Homo sapiens: one gene and its partners. The protein of the gene in region 5 interacts with the protein of the main gene of each other region in a pairwise test. Each region holds a gene or a part of one and is shown on either strand. Other genes may lie near its edges. The genes, in order: CHAT, COQ8A, ZDHHC17, STIP1, SPRY4 and RIN3.

Region 1 (3,500 bases), on a different chromosome or scaffold from region 5:
CATGCTTACCCAGTGCCTGCTGCCAACAATGTGTATGAGTGGCTGCTCAGGACTGACCGCTCTACCATGCGGCCTCTGCTCCCGGGCCCTTGCGCATTTCCACATGCACTGAATGAGTCCAGAGCAGGTTGGGTTCTAGCTTGAGACATCTGAGCTAAAGGTTAGTGAGTCTGAGCATCCCCTACACAACTATATCCGCCTGGTTCTCTAAGTGGAAAGAATGGGGCTGGCCTGGTCTTCTCAACTACCAACTGCTTGGGCAGGGAGAGAGTTTGGGAAGAAGGCTGTGTGCAGAGCTTGGAGACTACCGGATCCTGTGCAAGCATTGTGAAGGGCGTCCCAGGCTGTCCTGAACAGACTCCCACCACAACCAGCGCTGTCTCCTCCAGTAGGAGCCCAGGGAACAAGAGATAGAGGATAGAGGGTGTGAGATCTGTTACTGAATCTTGGCTGCTATTTCATGGCTCAGGATCAATTCATTTAAACTGGATCCATAATCTAAGAAATCGTTTTGAGACAGGAACTAGACCCCTTAGCAGGCTCAACTGACATTTTCAAGGGGAAAGAGCCTGTTGAATAATAAAAGTTCTTTTTCTTTTTATCACAAGATATTTAAACTTTTATCAAAGGATAGAAATATAGAGAAAGCTCCAGGATGTCAATGTAGGAGGGGTTCACGGAGGGTGAGGTGTCTGGAAGTGGGGCCGGGTACTCATTCTACAGCTCCCCCACTTGAGGCTGGGTATGTAGTATGCACACTGGTTTTTTGGACTGCATGTTTATTTGGAGCAATTCTAGGGGCTGATGGAGACTCAGGGGGCCACCCTGACCCATAGTAATCACTTTTGGGTCAACATCAGGGTAACTGTGAGTAACTCTTGGGGTTTCACAGTTCTGTAGGATGGCCAGTTAGCTGTCAAAGCCCTGCACAGGAGGAAACTTCCCATTCACAATGAACTTGGTATAGGTTTACAAGGCACGTTTAGGGATTTGACAGCTGTTCTCTTTCAGTTGCGAATGAATGCATAAAGATGACTCAGGCTCTGGTCTCTCTGAACGCACCTAATTAGAGGCTGAAAAGACAAACATTACACAACCACAGCTCACTTTAGACGTGCCCTACCTGTTAGGACCGAAGGAAAGAACGGTGAGCCCATCTATGAAGGAGACTACTCTTTTAATTTCTCTGGTTTCCTCTATTTAATTCCTGATTTGTGTTGGTCCATAGAAGCAGCTTCCCTGTGAACAGTCAACTCACCCCTCTTTTCACCACCTTGGAATAACTGTAGCAAGAGAGACTGAGTTCACAGGTTGTTTGGCTCAGAGCCATGAGTAATAACGAGTAAAATGACTTATAATTCAGTCTTTCATTCATTCATTTAGGGAATCTTAATTGAGTGCCTACTATATGCCTGGTGCCGCGGGTCCTGTAGCCACAACAGAGAACAAGACAGTTGTAGACTCAGTCCTTGTGGAGCTTATGGTGTAGTGGGGGACAGATTTCATCAACCATGCAAAAAAACATGATCATAAACTCAAGTGTGAGGAAGGGAAAACATAGAAGTGGGAGAGTAAGTGATGGGGGCTCTGGACCACCTTGCCATTGGAACTTTATTTCTCCACGACCACTGGCAAATATGCTTACCAGTTATTAGGTTTCCTTGCTTCTTTCCCCCTTTCCTTACCCTCCATGTCCAACCACACACCAGATTCACATCCTAAGCATCTTTGTATCTCTCCTTTCCCCAAACCCATCTCTTTGATTTGGTTGTTCTCATCAACTTAAAATTATTAACACAACCCTATGGCAATGCTTTGGAGGGTGTTTTCCTAGACATTTTAATAAATTTAAAGTTGTTATTGTCATATATTTATATCGTTTAGAAATCCAAATAAACCAAAAGCCTAGGTCATTTTGCCAGCACGGATTCCTACCCCACAAAGGTAATTCCTTACAGTCTTTTAGCTATTTCTTTTGGGTATATACTTTCTTTCCTCCAAACATATGCTTAGGTTACCACTACTGAATTTCTCAGTTTTACCTATAATCTTCTTGTTATAGACAGTGAAATTTCAGCTCTTTTTTTTTTTTTCTGAGATGGAGTCTCACTCTGTCGTCTAGGCTGGAGTGCAGTGGCGCGATCTCAGCTCACTGCAACCTCTGCCTCCTGGGTTCATGCCATTCTCCTGCCTCAGCTTTCTGAGTAGCTGGGACTACGGGCACCCCGCCACCACACCTGGCTAATTGTTTTGTATTTTTAATAGAGATGGGGTTTCACCGTGTCAGCCAGGATGGTCTCGATCTCCTGACCTTGTGATCCACCTGCCTCAGCCTCCCAAAGTGCTGGGATTACAGGCGTGAGCCACTGCACCCGGCCAATTTCAGCTCTTTTATGACCCTGCTCCCCCAGCACACTTCTACTCTCCCATCTTCCCAATAAGATTATGTTTTAACTCTTTGTAGTTTGATCAAGATACAGCATAATCATGTATACAGAACGATATACATAAGTATAATTAAGCAAGTATTCACAGCTGGGTCATGTAGTGTACTATGATTAGATTTCCTTTCTTATTGAATTTTTTGTTTTCCCTAGAATTGACAATGTATAAATTACTTTTTTACTTCCTTAGCTTTCCATGTATCTATTTTATTTATTTATTTATTTACTTTTGAGATGGAGTTTTGCTCTTTCACCCAGGCTGGAGTGAAGTGGCGTGATCTCGGCTGACTGCAACTTCCACCCCCTGGGTTCATGTGATTCTCCTGCCTCAGCCTCCTTAGTAGCTGGGATTACAGGTATGTGCCACCACACCTGGCTATTTTTTGTATTTTTAGTAGAGATGGGGTTTTGCCATGTTGGCCAGGCTGGTCTTGAATTCCTGACCTCAGGTGATCCACCCACCTCGGCCTCCCAAGGTGCTAGGATTACAGGCATGAGCCACTGTGCCAGGCCCCATGTATCTGTTTCTAACTGATTCCTAAACATGCAGCAAGAATTTCATTTGTCCTCTCACTTCTTGCTTCTTTATGGACTGATTGCTCTCTAGGTGTACTCAACAACTGTTGATTTGTGATCTCCTTTTACTGTCATCCTGCGGGCACCCCTCTATCTTTTTCTTGTGTTAAATCTTCTGTTTTTTTTCAGCCTATGATTTCCTCTTTTATGTTTTATTTTCTCACTTTAGAAGTCTACATTCTCCAGTAGCTTTATGAGAAATGGTGCTTAATAAGTAAAATGTTTGAGACTTTCTCTGTCTAAAAATATCTTTGATGCATCTTCAAACTTGATGACAGTTTAGCTGGGTATGAAATGTGTGTTGAAGGTCACTTTCTCTCAGAATTTGAAGACACTACTCTTTTTATCTTCCACCTTCCAATGATGCTGTTCAGAAATTAATTACATCTTTTTTATGGATCTTTGTATTTGATTTTTTTATCCTCTGATAGATTTTAGAATCTTCTCTTCATGTTTAGTGTTGTGAAATTTCCTTTGCTA
Region 2 (3,500 bases), on a different chromosome or scaffold from region 5:
CTGTGGGTGTCTGTGTGCTGGAGGATTGCCCACAGCTATGATTCAGAGATGCTCATGTTGTTGCCCAAGCAATTGACAGATGATGTTTCAGGCTTGGAGATGGCAGGATGGGAGCAAAGAGAAGCCAGGTCAGGAAAGAACGTGCCGTTCTGGCCCTAGTGGGGAATTCTGGGCCTTCTGGCTCACCCAGTTGAACCTTTCAAACTGTAGGTTATGACCCTTTAGTAACTGTGAAATTAATTTAATGCATCAGGATCAGCATATAAAAAACAAGTTAACTGTAATCTCAGCACTTTGGGAGGCCGAGGTGGGAGAATCACCTGAGGTCAGGAGTTTGAGACCAGCCTGGCCAACATGGTGAAACCCCAATTCCTACTAAAAAAATACAAAAATTAGCTAGGTGTGGTGGCATGTGACTGTAATCCCAGCTACTCGGGAGGCTGAGGCACAAGAATTGCTTGAGCCCAGGAGGGAGAGGTTGCAGTGAGCTGAGATTGCGCCACTGCACTCCAGTGGGGGCGACAGAGTGAGACTCTGTCTCAAAAAACAAGTTAAACAGAATGGAATTCAATAGAAAAGATTAGAATTAATATCGTACATCCTTACAATGAACTATACACATGGCAAGATATTTTAGTTTCAGAGACATACATACTATTTAAGTATGTTCTTCACTACAATGTGAAATATATAGCTTACTGGTGGGTCATCATCCAAACAGTTTGTAGTTGCACTGTTGCGCTTTGTTCTCCTAGAAAATACCTCTAGCCTTTCTTCCCTTCATGGAGGAAAGGTGTTTTTCAGGTGCAGACTGACAGACTTTAGGAAGTTTTTACACGGGGTTATGAAGGAAAGGGATTGCTCTAGGTCTCAGGGAGGTAGGGCTGCTGCAGGGACCCAGACGGGTTTTCAGCGAGGTTGGCAGTAGGTATTCAGCTATATAGAAGTGGAAGTCAAGGACTTTCCAATTCCAGGGGCTCATTTTGATGCTGAAATGGGGGCGGGGCATGAGTCCTAAGTCCAATTTGGCTATGGGACATTATGACTGTGATGCTATGGGCAGGATGATCTGTGGATATTAGATTTTCTTAAAGAGTGGTGTGAAAGAAAGGGTCATATATTGGATATGGGGTCAGAACTGAACTTTAGTTCATCATAATAGCTGTCCTTTGATTACAACTGTGCTTCCAGTGTGACCTTGGGCTCTACCGTGGTTTTCTCTTTTGTAAAATAAGGGTCTTGCCGTTGATTCCAAATGGGAATATTTTGGTAAATGTTCCATGTTTACCTGAAAATAATTCATGTTGAGTGCAGTGATCCGTCTATCTAGTCTGGTTTATTATTCATATTGATCAGATTTTTAAGTGATTTTGGTTTGCTTATTCAATAAGCTATCGAGAGAGGCATTAAAAAGTCTGCTATGATTGTGGATTTACCTACTTTTAGTCTATTGACTTGTGCTTTATATGGTTTGAAGCTATGTTATTTGTTGCCTACAGATTCAGAATTCTTTTTTTTTGTTTGAGACAGAGTCTTGCTCTGTCGCCCAGGCTGGAGTGCAGTGGCACAATCTTGGCTCACTGCAACTTCTGCCTCCTGGGTTCAAGTGATTCTCCTGCCTCAGCCTCCCGAGTAGCTGAGACTACACGTGCGTGATAAGTCTCGATCTCCTGACCTCATGATCCGCCCGCCTCGGCCTCCTAAAGTGCTAGGATTACAGGCGTGAGCCACCGCGCCCGGCCAGATTTAGAATTCTTCTTATATCCTCCTAGGGATTGACCCTTCATTCTTATGTTATGCCTCTTTTCATCTCTGTGAAAGTCCTCATTGTCTGATATTACTATAGCTACATTCCAGCTTTGTTTTGGGTAATGTTTGCATGTTACCTTTTTTTTTTCCCCTGTACTTTCAACTTTTAAAATGTCCTTATGTTTAATGCATATCTATGAGCAGCATATATAGTTGGTTTTTTGTGTGTTTTAAGTGTAGACTGATAATCTTACAATGAGAATATTTAGTCCATTTACATTTAAATGCAATTGTGGATGTATTGGAGTTTATATCTACTACCTTAGTTTTTGTTTGTTTACTATTTGACCTGTCTGTTATGTCCCCCTTTTTCTCACCTGTTTTGCCTTCTTTTAAATTAATCAAGGACTTAAAATTATAGTCATGCGTCTCTCTTTTTTTTTGGAGACAGTCTCGCTCGGTCACCCAGGCTGGAGTGCAGCGGCGTGATCTCGGCTCACAGCAACCTCAGGCAATTCCCATGCCTCAGCCACTCGAATAGCTGGAATTACAGGTGTGTGCTGCCATGCCCGGCTAATTTTTGTAGTTTTAGCGGAGACAGGGTTTTGCCATGTTGGCCAGGCTGTTCTTGAACTCCTGGCCTCAAGTGATCCACCTGCCTCAACCTTCCAAAGTGCTGGGATTAAAGGCATGAGCCACCGCACCTGGCCCTCATGTGTGTCTTAACAAGGATTCAGTCCGAGAAATGTGTCGTTAGGCAGTTTCATCATTGTGTGAACATCATAGAGTGTACTTACACAAACCTAGATGGTATAGCCTGCTACATGCCTAGGCTGTATGGCATAGCCTGTTGCTCCTAGGCTACAAACCTTTACAACATGTTACTGTACTGAATACAGTAGATAACTGTAATACAACGGTATTTGTGTACCTAAACATAGAAAAGGTATAGTAAAAATATGATACAATCTATCACTGTCGTATATGCAGTCCGTTGACTGAAATGTTACATGATGCGTGACCGTGCATGTTCTCTCTTTGTTAGCTCTTATGTTTTACATTCCTTTACGGTTCTTTTGGTGATCACTCTTGAGATTACAGCACGCATCTTGACTTATTACAATATAAAAATAAGTGATTATTTTTACTACTTCTCCAATGATGCTAATACCTTAGAACACTTTTTAGATATTAAGATATATTAAACACCACAAGAATTATTTCTTTGTACAGCCCATATGAATTTAGATTTACCCACATATTTGCCCTTTTTTGTGTTTCTTTCTTCCTGCATTTCTATAATTTTATTTGGTATAATTTTCTTTTTCTCTGAGGAACTCTCCTCTCTCTTACAGTGTAGTCTGTTAATCATGAATTCTTTTAGTTTTTATTTATTTTTTATTGATTTATTTTTTGAGATGAAGTTTTGCTCTTGTCACCCAGGCTGGAGTGCAATGGCGTGATCTCGACTCACTGCAACCTCTGCCTCCCGGGTTCAGGTGATTCTCCTGCCTCAGCCTCCTGAGTAGCTGGGATTACAGGTGCATGCCACCACACCCAGCTAATTTTTGTATTTTTAGCAGAGATGGGGTTTTGCCATGTTGGCCAGGCTGATCTCGAACTCCTGACCTCAGGTGATCCACCCACCTCTGCCTCCCAAAGTGCTGGGATTACAGGCATGAGCCACCACACCCGACCTAGTTTTTATTTTTTTGAAAATGTCATTATAGCTGGGCACGGTGGCTCATGCC
Region 3 (3,500 bases), on a different chromosome or scaffold from region 5:
TAATAAAAATGTAGTAAAAATTTATCAGAACATAGTTAACATTAAGAAAAACAATATTATTGACTACAGTCGATAAAAGAGAAAGGGAAGAAGAAATAAAAATATGCTAATTTTATTACTGCTTATAATTAGGAACTATGTAATCAGAACTAATAAAATTTGAGCAACCATCTGACTGAAGAGAGAGAGAGAAACTGTGTGACTATCTGAGGAAAGAATATACCAGCAGAAGAAACAGCAACCAAAAGGCCCTTAGACAACAGCATGTCAGAGTTGCTGAAAAAGTAGCAAAAAAAAACTAGTGCAGTTAAAGCAGAGTGATGATGGGGAGATGGCAGAAGTGGAGCTCAAAGGTATCCAGGGGTTAAACGGCACAGTGCTCTAGCACAGAGAAAAACTCTGGGCCCTCACAGTATGATGCAATGCACATTGGAAGAGTGTCTTTTACAATATATTAGTGTATACATGTTGAGTATCCTTTATGTAAAATGCTTGGGACCAGAAGTGTTTGAATATGTGTATGTTTTTCCTATGTTGAAATATTTGCATATATGTAATAAAATCTTGAGAATGGGACCAAAATCTAAATGTGGAATTCATTCATCTTTCATATACACCTTATACATACAGCCTGAAGGCAATTTTATTCAATATTTTAAATAATTTTGTACATGAAACAAAGTGTGTGTACAACGAACTATATTGGAAAGCAAAGGTGTCAGGGGTAAAATTTTCCACTTGTGGCATCATGTTGACACTCAAAACGTTTTGGATTTCGCAGCATTCCGGATTTTCAGATTACAGATGCTTAATCTGTACATGGAATAAAATCTCTTAAAATACATACTACATTATTAAAGGAAGTAACCTCAGTCAGCAGATGGCCAAGGGGAGAGGTGAGATTTCATTTTCTAAGTCATATTCTATTATGCCTGAATATTTCATAATAAACATTTATTATCTTTGTGTGCAGAAAAAAAATTTACTCATGGAAAAAAAAAACTATTTCTCAGACATTTATCATCATCATTATCATCATCATGCCCTTTTTGTACCAAAAGCACTGACAGGTAGAAATCCTGCCCTTTGAGAATTTTATAGCCTATATACTATACCAGAGGTTAAAAAGATTAATGAAATAATCCAAACTCCAAAATCAATAAGTTAAAAAAAAGACCATGAAGACTCAAAAATGTACACCACCTTTCTTTCCCAGTTAAAAACTGAAAGTAAAAAAGTGAATGTGTATTGTAGATTTATTCTGCAATATGGAAGGCCACTAAAGACCTTGTGATGTGCTATAGCACCATTTACTGCTTCAACGTTTGTTCTAGAAAAAAACTGCAGAATAACAAGAATAATCTCCTATAGCAGTTGCTCTCCAGATGACCCCCCATAAACCTGGCCTCTTGGTATTCACACCCTTGTGTGGTCCCTTCCCTCCGGGTGGTTATGGCCCTTGTTAACTCACTTTAACTGATAGAATGGAGAAAAAACGTTGCTGTGTCAGTTCAAGACCTAAGACTTAAAAATGCAAAACAGCTTCTACTTTTGTTCTTTTGGGAGCTCTAAGCCAATATGTAAGAAGTCTAGTTCTCCTGCTGGAAAGACCACATGGACTGGTATTGAAAAGTAGAAGTTCTGACACTACATAGAGAAAGAAAGAGGCCTCGCTGCCCCAGCCTCCCAGTTAAGCAGTTTGTAGCCATTCCTATCAAGTCACAAGATATGTGAGCCAATCTTCCAGCTCAGTCAAGCCGCCAGACAACTGCAGCCACCAGCCAAGGAGAAAAACCATCCAGCCAAGCCCACAAAATTGTGAGACGTATTAATTGGTTGGTATTGTTCTTAAGCCATTAGATTTTGGCAGTAGTTTTTTAACACAGTAACAGACAATAACCCCCCCTCCCCTTCCAGCAATTAACTTTATCAGTCTATGCCTCTTTTCCTAAACTATAATGCACAACACAACTGCCACTGCTTGAGACTGCCAACAACAAATACTGTAAAACCTTCATTAAAAGAAATAGTATTCAAATTCTAAATCCGCATAGAATTTTAAATTAACAATAAATACATGTTGATAGCAACAAATTAAATACATATATCTTAAAGTTATTCTTGTGATGAGATCCTTACTTATAAAATTAATGTTCAAATATAACCAGAAAAAACACACTAAAGAAAAACTGGGTGACATTACTTTTAACAAAATACGTTTATTACAAAAACATGATTATATAAACTGGTAATATTTAATGTGATTATGGTCACTGCACACTCAAGAAAAATCAGGAACAACCACTTAAAATATGATGTTTTTCTGACAAGTAAGAAGCAGCATTATCTTATACAGCAGAAACTGATCTTAAAAAATGTATCCCTCTCAAGAGATATTTAATATATAAAATAACCAATAAATAAGTTCAAAAAAGTTTGGATGAATTCAGATGATATATTCAAAATACATAAAGAAAAAATAGATACTTATATTTTCTCTCTTAATTTCTGAGCTTTATCTCCATTACTCTTAGAAATAAAAAACCCAACTTCATCATTATCTGGTTCATGATTTTCATGCTGGCTTTTATGTTAGGTACATTAAATATCTCCATATCAAACTCACTATATTTATGTTCTTCACCCATCAGAAAGTGCTATTTAAATATCAACGGCTTGTTACAACACCAATAATATTAGGCATTTAAACTATGAAGAACATCTGATTAAAATCCATACCACTGAGATTTTTTTTACCTGTCCTTTTGCTATGAGATAAGCAACAATTGAGGTATGTCCGAACTGAGCAGCCAGATGAATACAGCTACATCCTTCTCCATCAATTAATGAAGGATCTGCACCATATTTCATTAGTTGCACAACCATGGATAGATGGCCTTGTCTAAAACATAAAAGAATAAACACTTAGATATATAAAGTTATTTCAAACAGGATCCTCTGGGAAGAGCTTTTTCAAGTAAGGTATGGTGGGAAGATTACGTATGTATTTTGAAAAGTTATTTTAAAATAGATACATGTCAAAATACATTTAGGATTTTATGGTTCTTAGAAGTCTTAACTAGATTAACAGTCTGAAAATGTATGGAAGTACTCATAACTTATTTAAATATATAGTAAATAATTACTATATTCTATTATGTCCATTCTAATATTATCTCAATCATCCCAAGAAATGAGCTAATTCTTTCATTGTAAATATATACAGGCTGCAAAAATATTACGTTTAGAAATCCAAAGTTTAATCCAATCTTATAACTAACTGAATTAATATCAGCATGGCCAGGGAAACTTTGGACAATAAACTTTTGCTTCTTTACAGGTAATATTTCACAATAAAACATCAGCATATTTATGATATTAACTAACGGCATAATAAGCTCTCCTATTCATTTTAGTATATCATTTTTTTAAAGTTGTTTATTTATATACTAATAAAGGAACCAAAGGAAAAAAATCCAGAAGCAAATTTAAACCTTGTG
Region 4 (3,500 bases), on a different chromosome or scaffold from region 5:
GCCCACCTTGGCCTCCAAAAGTGCTGGGATTATAGGCATGAGCCACCGTGCCTGGCCTGAAGCTGATTTTTTAACATGCTGGCCATTCTAATGAATAATAGCCATAAGCTTAGCGCATACTAAAGCACTCAAAATAGTTTTAGGTGGGCACAGTGGCTCGTGACTGTAATCCTAGCTGAAGCAGGAGCATCGCTTGAGGCCAGAAGTTCAAGACCAACCTGGGAAACACAGCAAGACTCCGTCTCTAAAAAAACCATAATAATCATGGTCAATCAAGGTCAACAGATGTCCCCATTCAACATAAAGATTTCTAGTTGTTTATAGATAGGTGACAGTGAGGAGAGAAAAAAACAAGACCTGCTTCTTATTCTCTGGAAGATCTTCTTCCATTGGCTCTGGCTTGGTCTCCTTTTTGGGAGGGGGTGGTGGTGGAGGTGTTGCAATCTCTTCCTCCTCATCCATACTGCCCAGATCGACCCCAAGGAGGACGCTGAGAGTGGTCATGATCCGGGGATCTTGTAGTTTCCTAGTATTGATTTAAAAAAATAAAGAAAAATTGTAATTACTCCTCCCCACAATTAGTCTTTTAACTCCCACTTACTACTAAAGTCAGATTCTTGTGTTTAGAAGCTCCTCACCCATCAAAAGATGGCTAGATTTTGCACCACTCATGAGTTACAATTGAGAAATACTCAAACCGTCAAAACACTATCTAAAATAGAGTCAACAAAAACAAATAAAATGAAGTCACAGATAGCGGAGCACGGTGGCTCACACCTGTAATCCCAGCACTTTGGGAGGCCGAGGCGGGCAGACCACTTGAGGTCAGGAGTTTGAGACCAGCCTAGCCAACATGGTGAAACCCACCGCTACTACTAAACATACAAAAATTAGCTGGGCGTGGTGGCGTACACCTGTAATCCCAGCTACTCAGGAGGCTGAGGCAGGAGAATCGCTTGAACCCAGGAGGTGGAAGTTGCAGCGAACTGAGATCACACCACTGCACTCCAGCCTAGGGGACAGAGCGAGACTCCATCTTGAAAAAATAAAATAAAATAAAATAAAATAAAATGAAGTCACAGAGGTCAAGTTTATTCCTCAAGGTTAGCAGATACACAGAGGAATGAGTTGTTTTAGGTATACTTCCGTAGCTGATCTCAGGAGCCAGAGGATTGATAGAGATGAATACCAGTACAAGATTTAGACACATCTTTACACATGAACTTCAACCCTGTTTCCACTCTGATATACCAACAGAGAAAGTAGGGCCTAAGTAGATGGAAAGGATGGGGTTGACGCTAGATCAGAGTTCTAGAAGAGCAGGAGAGAGGTGTATACAGATGACAAAGAACATTCTAGATTACTGTGAAATATGCTCCCCTGACCCTTTCTATAATTACAAATAAACGACCACCACCTACTGCTCTGCAGAGAATAAGCAAAGGCAAAAACTCTGCAGTTTAGACCAGGGAACCCTCTGCTGTGAGGTTACAGGAAGAAAGCATAACATTCCCCGATTTCCAGAACCTCAGTGAGCGGCGTCCACTTACGTGCCCAGGTCAGAAGGCTTGTTTCGTAGCTGCTCTATCAGCTCCCGGTAGGTAGGATCACTGAGTAGTGTCCTTGTCCTGGGATCACTCTCCAACTTCTGATACAGATTAGGCATGTTGAAAGGGTTCATGAATTTTCTCTCTGTCCAAATAAAGGAAAGCACATCACTATGAAATGAGTTCACTAGAATTACTGTGTCCCATACCCTACCAGACTGACATTTCTCAGGGGTGAAGACTCAAAATTAATCACATTAATAATAAGAAAGAAAACTGTGCGTGGTACCTACCTGCCAACCTGGCCTCCATATTCTGTAAACCCTCTTTCAGTTGAGGGTTATTTGCCTCGTGTTTTAAGCCCTCCTCATAGGTTCGCTTGGCTTCTTCAAAGCGGTTTAAGAACTCTAGAGCTGCTGCTTTTCGTGAATAGCCCTTAAACCACCAAAGACAGACACAAAATAGAGAACACCCAGAGGTAAATCTAGAAGACGAACTCAAAAAAGAACAATTCTACTTTTATGGGGGAAAAATGAGTATTCACATGAAGGCCAAAGAGAAAAAAAGGAGAGGAGTAGGCTACGAGGCCAAGGCTGCTACTGTAAGGATCCATCCAAATAGCAGAGGCACATCCGCCCCGCCTTGTTCACCTCTGATCGACTGTGGTCAGTTTCTTTGGCAACACTTTTTCCCTTATTTTTTTGGTAAAGACAGGGACTCCTTATGTTACCCAGGCTGGTCCCAAACCTTTGGGCTCCAGTAATCCTCCTGCCTCAACCTCCCAAAGTGCTGGGATTATAGGCGTGAGCCACTGTACCGGGCCTCTTCCTTTTTTTTTGAGACAGGGTCTTGCCGTGTCACCTGGGCTGGATGCAGTGGCACGATTTCAGCTCACTGCAACCTCCGCTTGCCAGGCTCAGGTGATCCTCCTGCCTTAGTCTCCTGAGTAGATGGGACTACAAGCACATGCCACCATGCCTGGCTAAATTTTTTTGCATTTTTAGTACAGACAGGGTTTCACCATGTTGGCCAGGCTGGTCTTGAACTCCTGACCTCAAGTGATCCGCCCACCTCAGCCTCCCAAAGTGTTGGGATCACAGGCGTGCGTCACCGCGCCCAGCCCTGGCCTCTTCCTTCTTAGTACCAAAAATAAAGCCTGTATTACAACTAATGGCTACCTTAGATTTGATGAAAAATGCCATTTCTGAGGAGGATACTCAAACAGGGAGGTGGGTAGGTAACTATCAGTGTATCAGGACAGGTAAACCTCAGGCCACCAAAAGGCATTTCTGGAAGGGTCTGAAGGGCCTCTCTCCCTCCACTGCCCACAGCTGACCTTGCCCCAGTCAGGCTTTAGGTCGACAGTCTTGCAGCCATCCTCATAAGCCTTCTGGTAGTCTCCTTTCTTGGCATAGGCAGCAGAACGGTTGCTGTACAGCACGTGGTTGTGGGGATCCAGCTTAATAGCTTCGGAGTAGCACTGTAAGGCATCATCGATGTTACCCACGCTCAGGGCCTTGTTGCCTTTCTCCTTCAGCTCATTGACCTGAGGGGAAAGGAACACACAGCTTCTCTATGATGTGCCCATTTAATCCCAAGCTTTAAAGACAACACTCATTCTTTCATGTAGTTACCAACAAATAAATAGGTGACTTTACAGATCAGAAGAGAGAAAACCGGTTCATTTATTTAATTTCTCACACCTTCCCTAAGGAGCCAGCAAAGAAAAAATAAGCAGGGGCAAAGAGCCCAGGCTGCACTCCACGCTGGCCCCCATGTGACGAACGAGGGCTCTGCCACTCTTCCGGTCTCCACATGGAGCTCACGAAGCCACTCCAGAATGTGCCACATGCTCCTTCCATGGAAAAGTCAATTCATTTGCCACAGATTTCCAAAGCATCCAAATGACAAACAGAGCACAGCCCTAGTCACCCCTCACAGGAAGAAGGTGGG
Region 5 (2,546 bases):
GGTCATGAAATGGATGGAAGGCTTTCGAGGCTAAAAGGACTAGTTTTGTGCAATATGCACCAATCCTGTGAAAATACGGAAATGACCAAGGGCTTTTCTATTTAGTTCCTTGAAGCATGTATGTTGTGTGTTCATGTGTGTGAAAACCTGCTTTGGGGGCAATCGGGACATAAAGGGAGAGGAATGGACAGGTCAGATGACACTTTTCCCCCTCTACCTCTTCCCAGTTTTGGAGCTTTGCTGTCCATCTGCAGCACACTCCAGTTTAGGGGACAGCTTTCCCAGGAAGGAGGCTCTAGCAGCTCCTTGCAGTATTCCGCTTCATAATGAAGAGCAGCTTTCCTCCGATGGTTCTACGGTCGTCCTAGAGCTGGGAGAAGGGATTGCCCAGCCCAGGAAGCCCTATCTTCTCTTCCCCTTTCAGTGGCTGCTTATTCTCAAACTTGAGGCCTTGCTGGCTGAAGAGGTCAGGGAAGTAAACACACAAACACACCAGAAACGGCAGTCCCGTGTATATTTAACAATATATATTTATATATATTTTCTAAATCAGTACATTCAGTTTTTAACTTGTTTTTTTCTTCACAAACAGAAGAACTCTTACAATAGTAGACTTTCTAAAATAAATACTATTAAAATAGAGCTTCAAAATAAATATTCTATACAAAGAAAACCTGTGGCAACTTTGTGGTGGGGTGGAAATGGGCTACAGTGAGGGGGAAATGAAGTTGGGATGTGGCGGGGTGGGAGCCTCGAGCTTTTCTGTTTGTAACATGAAACCAAGCTGTGGGACAGTAAGAAGAGAAAGCAAGGCAAGACACTGCACGCAGTTACCCACAGCAGAAAATGGCAACGCAAGATTCATCATCGACTGTCACAGTAAGCAGAGGGGGCACAAAAATGCTTGTCAAAGGCATGAACCAGAAGGCTAGTGAGGCTCGCAGGATGCCCTAGTGAATCGTACAGTGTAGAGCTGTGCTGCCCACGCCCGCCAGACACTTCCTGGGACAGCACAGAAGGAGAACAGGATGCTTCAAGGTGACAGTCATCCGGGTTCTGGTGCAGATCAACTTTCCACGTGTGCCATCTTGGACAAGTCATTATCTAGCTGGGCCTCACTCGAGGTATGATGGCGACTGACAGGCTCCACAAGGCTGAAAAGAACTAGCCATGTCTTCCATCTCAGCTCTGAGGGGGTGCGTACCAAAGGACCAAAGGAAGGGATTGGTCTTCACCCCCTTCCTGCTCAGGAAAGCCTTAGTTGTGCCCAATCTTTTCTCTGGGAGGGCTTTGCTACCCAAGACCCAGTTCCCAGGGTGCTCGCGGAAGCGCTGTCCTTCATTAACACGGGCAGCCAGAGCCCCCTAGAAGCGTCCTGGATCCCAGGTGCCCCTCGAGTTAAGACAGAACCCCCACCTACCCCAGGTTTACCAGGGGCGGGAACTAACCAGCACTTTTCAAAAAAGGTCAAGCCGAGGCATCGTCCAGCCAAACAGGCCATTGGTGACAGGAAACACACTCAGCCAGAAGCAGCTACACATGTGTGTTGTGTCTCTGAGTGCTGGGTCCCTCAGTGGCTCTCGACTGGCCCCAGAGCCGGGGAGGGTCCACAGGCAAGCCAGTTTATCCTTCTGTTTGTTGTTGTTGTTGTTGTTGTTGTTGTTGTTTTAATTTTTGCCAAGAAGCTGAGAAAAACAATGCTGAGGGATTGCTACACAACCAAGCTGGGAGAACCAAGGATGGTTCCTTCGCTCCTTTCCCATGACCACTGAGCACACGAGGCACTGAGGTGGACTCTTAGAGAGCACTCTGCAGACATCCATCAAGCAGGTTGAAAGCAAACCAAGAAGAACAAGCTAGAACAGGGGCAGGGGGAAAAAAGGAAAAAGCAAACCAAAACCCAGAAAAATCCGTGTTTACAAGTATGTACACAAAAAGTCAGGGTTCAGGAGGCCGTTTGCCAGGAAATAGGGTCTTTGTCGGTAGACAGTCAGTGTGGGGTAGGGGTGTGTGTGTGTGTGTGTGTGTGTGTATACACAGCTTATGTAAATCGACTCTCCACAGAACGGGTGTGTAGACCACCAAGATCACCAAAGTGCAACTTGCCACTGGGTCAAGTTTCCCATGGAGACAATTTGAGGGAGGGGCCCTGGGAAGTTCTGAGGCCTCGCAGAAAGCGTGCAGATGTGCACTATCAATTTTGGGGCCCCCTCATCTGAGGAAAACCATCTCCAGTCCCTTCAGTACACTTCTGATACATTCAATTCATATAAGTGGTTGGCTGAATGTGTGTTTTTTTCTACCACTCCTTCTGAAATGTTCAAGAACATCCATACATCCGTCACAACTGTGGCAAGGGTAGCTACACGAATCAGCCTTGGAAAATGCAGATGCAATATTTCACATTCGCCTTTTACAAGCTAGCAAATGTTACATAAATAAAGCCGAAAATAATATGACCCTCCCTTCCTCCAATCAATAAATACCTATGGTTACAATCAACTTACTCTAAATCATAAGATGTTACTACTAGTCTTCAAGAAGGA
Region 6 (3,929 bases), on a different chromosome or scaffold from region 5:
CTCCTGTGCATCAGAGCCTCTGTTAGGATCTGGAAAGGGCTAGGTCTCCTAGCTAAGTGCCAGTCAGGACCTCCAGGGAACATTAGCTCCTTGAATCCAGGAAGCCAAGGTCAAGGGACAGAGCTGGAGCTACGAGCTCACACCCTGAATCCATCACTGGCCCTGCTGTAGGTGGGCCCCACCCAGAAGAGCCCCCTGTCTCAGCCTGGAGTGGTTAAGGGGCTCCTCTTCAGGGCTCCAGCAGGACCCCTGTATTAGATCAGGCCAAGGCTCAGGAGACATGAGTTCCACCACCACCTCCCCCAATACCAGGGAACCCATTTCCCCTTTCTGGGTTTCTGGTTCCTCATTGTTAAATTAGGGGATTGATTAGGTCAATGACAGCCACATTTTTTCCAGCAGTGGAATCCTTTTCCAAATGAAATCTTAAGCAGACCTTTAATATAGCAAAAATGTGAAAAGGTGACTGGTCTAGTTGCTATGGTGGGGCTGCATGGGGGTGCCTGCTAGGTCTCTCCCTACCCCCTGAAAGCTACTGGCCTGAGTGGACTCTGAGAACCCACTCTCAGCAGACTCCGCACAGTTCGGCATCTGTCCCTGATGCACTGGACCCTGGGCAGACAGAGCCCAACCAGAGTCATCCTCCACTCCTCTCTCCCTCCAATCCATCAGCAAATCCTCTACCCTTCAAAGTCCTTCCAACCCAAAAGGTCCTCCAAAACAAAGCCATGTTTTAGCAACAAACCAATATTCATACAGTGCTAGAATGTACCAAGCACAGTTCTAAGCAGGCCTGAACGGATGTTTCCCCTAAGCTGCCTGGGGGCAGCTACTTAGCTATGAACTCAGCCAATCCACGAAACAATTCTATGTGGTGTGTGTTGCTAGCACCCCCAGTTTACAGGTGAGGCAGGGGCCGGGTCATTTGTCTAAGGTTACACATTTGGCAAATGGAGGGATCATACCCAACAAATGATAATAATGGTGATAATTATGATTAAGGGTTTACCATATAGTCTAATGTATTCAACTCTGTGTATTTAGTCCTCAAAACAACTCTAAGGGGTAGTTACTATTATTTATCATTTTATTGATAAGTGAACTGAGATACAGAGAGTTTAAATAACCGACCCAGTAATGAACAAAAAAAGACAAGAGGAAGTGGATCACACTAGGTCATCTCTGGGGAAAATGAGAAGCCGGTGAGGCCAGCGCCCTGGCCCCTCACCTCCCCTTCCTCCCTGAGAAACTCCTCTCCGGCTTCACCCTGCCATCTTGGGTGTGGCAGATACTTGCAAGTGGGTGTGAGGGTTGGGGGGCTCTTCCCCAACGGATTCCCAGTTCTTCCCACCGGATGGTATTTGTCTTTGCAGAGGTCGCTTTCGAGAGAAAGAAACCAGCATCCAGAATTTCCGGGCTGGCAGGATGGAGGGAGAAGAAGGGAAGGGAGACGTTCAGATCTAGATGAGCTTAAGGCCCCCTCCCAGTCCCTCCCAGCTGAGTGAGAGCCAGTCACCTCCAGCTGTCCCCCAGTTCAGGACTGCACAAGATGGGCCCAACTCTCCTGTTTCACAGAGCAGAGAACTGAGGGCCTGGGAGATGAGGTCCCACTGCCAAGCCAGGGAGCGGCAGGGTGTCCATCAGAGAAGTAGGCCCGGGACTTTTAAACCAAAAAGCTGGGAATGGCCTCCCCAGACGCGCTCCTGGGTACCCAGAAATAGGCTTTCCCCGGGAATCCGCCTCCGACCGGGCGTCTCTACAACACCTGAAGCTTCTCAGGACGCCCTCTGAGCTGGGCAAGGCGAGAGGACTTTCTCCCAGAGCCCAGCCCCGAGCAATGCCCGAGCTCGCGAGGTGGGGCTGGGGGCGACAAGGAGGCGGAGCGGGGACTTAGCCACCGGGGACTCCTCTCCAAGTCAGTTCCCAAACCATTCGGCGTCATGCATCCACAGCCCGCGCGCAGCCCGTGCGCCCTGGACCCTACCCAAGCACTAGGCTCGACCAGGGCCGGTCCGAAGGTCACCGTCTACGGCCAGGGCAGAGGGGCGGCGGGAAAAGGGCCCAGTGGACCCTCGGTCCAGGAGGGCCGGTCAGCTGTTGGGCCGCGGGCACCCAAAGTTGCGGGGGTCCGGGTCTCCGACCCCACGCCCAGCGGGGCTCTAGTACCCGAGGGCGCGCGCTGCGACTCGCAGAGCAGCGGGTGCAGCAGGCTGGCGGGGCTGGGACCGCGAGTTTTGTTTGCAAAGTTCAGGCGGGGCAGACGCCAGGGAGGGGGCCGCGTCCACGCGGGCAGCCCCGGCGCTGACAGGTAGCGACGCACTCCCTCGTAATCCGTCCACCAGCAGCCTAAAGTGTGCACTGGGTTCCCAGTGAAATGCCTGGCCTTGAAAGTTTAGCCAACATCGGGTCCAGCGGAGTCACCAGGGCCGCCCCCTGCCCCGCAGAACCAGGTTCTGGCCTCGGCCACGGTGGGGGTCCCGTATCAGCCCGACAACCCCGAGGTCACGCGCCCGAAGGACTCTCTGGGACAAGAAGTGGAGTGGGGCGGCCAGGACGCGGGCCGTGGGGATCGCGAGGGAGGAGGGGGCGGCCGCCCGGACTTACCCCGTGGGGTCCCCGCGCGCGGGCGCCCCGGCGTGTCGGATCATGCCGCCGGCAGCTCCGGGACGGGGAACGGAGGCGCTCAGGCGCCGGGCCGCGCGGAACGCGGAGTCCCGGGCGCCCGCATGTCCCTGGCTCTGGCCCTCTGGAAGGGCCAGGCCGCCGCTGCCGCCGCGCTCTGGGGCTCTCGCTCCCTTCTACTTCCTGTATCGGAGCGAGCGGGGCTTTCAGGAAGAGGCTGGCCTTGGTGGTCAAGGGTTTTTTTGTCAAAAGCCATTCGGCAGCGGCTCGCGGCCCGGAGCCCCCTGGGGCACACGGAGGCCCGGGCGGCCGCGCCCCCGGGGCCGGGCCTCGGGGCGGGGGGTGCTGGGGCCAAGGCGCCGCACGGGCGCCCAACCTCGGGGTGCCGCCTCCACAGGCTGTGGCTGGGGCTGGGGCGCGGGAGGCCCGCGGGGCTTCGGAGAGGGAAACTTAGAGAAAAGTCTTCCACTTGGCTTGGGGCCGCAGGGGAAGGAAGACGCCCTCCGCCTGTGCCGGCGCCGACCGCGGGCCGGCAGGTGGGGAGGCCCAGAGCTGGCGGGGAGTTCGTCCCACTCGGAGCCACAGCCTTGCCCGAGGGAGCCTCGAAATCGTTCAAGGGCAACCTCAGACCAGAGCCAGGGCGCCTCCTCCACATTCCTGACAGATGTGCACGCCGCCTCCTCTTGGATGCTTCCCGTGACAAGGAGCTCACTCCTCAACAAGGCGGACTGCTCGTCCATCAAGCCTGGCATCTAATTCACCTGTGCCGGGTACCGCAGATGGAGAACGCCAGACAGCTGACACAAATGCAAGACCCACAGCAACCCCAGGTGGGACCGTGAGGCCTCTTCTAAGTGCCTGGGTGTTCAAAAATGCCTCCCGAGCCCAGTGTTTTCCCAGAGCATTTCCCAGAGTGACTGAGCAGGACTGGACCCTATTAGGTCACCTCAGTCTCATGCAGGATTTCTTTACCTGGCCGCTACTGCCATTTGGGGCCGGCTAATGCTTTGTTATTGGGGCTAATGCTTTGTTATTGGGGCCAGCTAATGCTTTGTTATTAAACCTCCTTCAAAACTGCAGGAGGTTTAACGGTATCCATGGCCTCTCCATGATTCATAAAATACCCATAGCATCAGCCTCTCTCTGTAACGACCAGAAATGTCTCTAGATATCACAAGTGTCCTCCGGGGGCAAAATCGTCGAGGTCTAATACCATCATTTTAGAGATAAGGAAACTGAGGCCTAGAGAGTGGAGGTGACTTGCTCAAGGCCATATGGCAAGTGAGGACCAGACAGGACTGAGCCCA

What was found.
Region 1: the proteins of SPRY4 (region 5) and CHAT interact in binary tests that used the Homo sapiens proteins (3 or more experiments, as listed by UniProt).
Region 2: the proteins of SPRY4 (region 5) and COQ8A interact in binary tests that used the Homo sapiens proteins (3 or more experiments, as listed by UniProt).
Region 3: the proteins of SPRY4 (region 5) and ZDHHC17 interact in a two-hybrid assay, tested with the Homo sapiens proteins (one large-scale study listed by BioGRID and IntAct).
Region 4: the proteins of SPRY4 (region 5) and STIP1 interact in binary tests that used the Homo sapiens proteins (3 or more experiments, as listed by UniProt).
Region 6: the proteins of SPRY4 (region 5) and RIN3 interact in a two-hybrid assay, tested with the Homo sapiens proteins (one large-scale study listed by BioGRID and IntAct).

Annotation. Positions count from the first base shown.
Region 1 is NC_000010.11:49,659,037-49,662,536, reverse strand, and holds part of CHAT (choline O-acetyltransferase), read right to left. Parts: intron 1-3,500. UniProt on the Homo sapiens protein: Catalyzes the reversible synthesis of acetylcholine (ACh) from acetyl CoA and choline at cholinergic synapses.
Region 2 is NC_000001.11:226,967,794-226,971,293, forward strand, and holds part of COQ8A (atypical kinase COQ8A, mitochondrial), read left to right. Parts: intron 1-3,500. UniProt on the Homo sapiens protein: Atypical kinase involved in the biosynthesis of coenzyme Q, also named ubiquinone, an essential lipid-soluble electron transporter for aerobic cellular respiration.
Region 3 is NC_000012.12:76,809,115-76,812,614, reverse strand, and holds part of ZDHHC17 (palmitoyltransferase ZDHHC17), read right to left. Parts: coding exon 3,495-3,500; intron 2,903-3,494; coding exon 2,758-2,902; intron 1-2,757. UniProt on the Homo sapiens protein: Palmitoyltransferase that catalyzes the addition of palmitate onto various protein substrates and is involved in a variety of cellular processes.
Region 4 is NC_000011.10:64,192,671-64,196,170, reverse strand, and holds part of STIP1 (stress-induced-phosphoprotein 1), read right to left. Parts: intron 3,094-3,500; coding exon 2,884-3,093; intron 1,983-2,883; coding exon 1,841-1,982; intron 1,693-1,840; coding exon 1,551-1,692; intron 527-1,550; coding exon 358-526; intron 1-357. UniProt on the Homo sapiens protein: Acts as a co-chaperone for HSP90AA1. Mediates the association of the molecular chaperones HSPA8/HSC70 and HSP90.
Region 5 is NC_000005.10:142,309,930-142,312,475, forward strand, and holds the end of SPRY4 (protein sprouty homolog 4), read right to left. Parts: 3' UTR 501-2,546; downstream 1-500. UniProt on the Homo sapiens protein: Suppresses the insulin receptor and EGFR-transduced MAPK signaling pathway, but does not inhibit MAPK activation by a constitutively active mutant Ras. Probably impairs the formation of GTP-Ras.
Region 6 is NC_000014.9:92,512,652-92,516,580, reverse strand, and holds the start of RIN3 (ras and Rab interactor 3), read right to left. Parts: upstream 2,801-3,929; 5' UTR 2,649-2,800; coding exon 2,605-2,648; intron 2,208-2,604; exon of another isoform or gene 1,985-2,207; intron 1,418-1,984; exon of another isoform or gene 1,070-1,417; intron 1-1,069. UniProt on the Homo sapiens protein: Ras effector protein that functions as a guanine nucleotide exchange (GEF) for RAB5B and RAB31, by exchanging bound GDP for free GTP. Required for normal RAB31 function.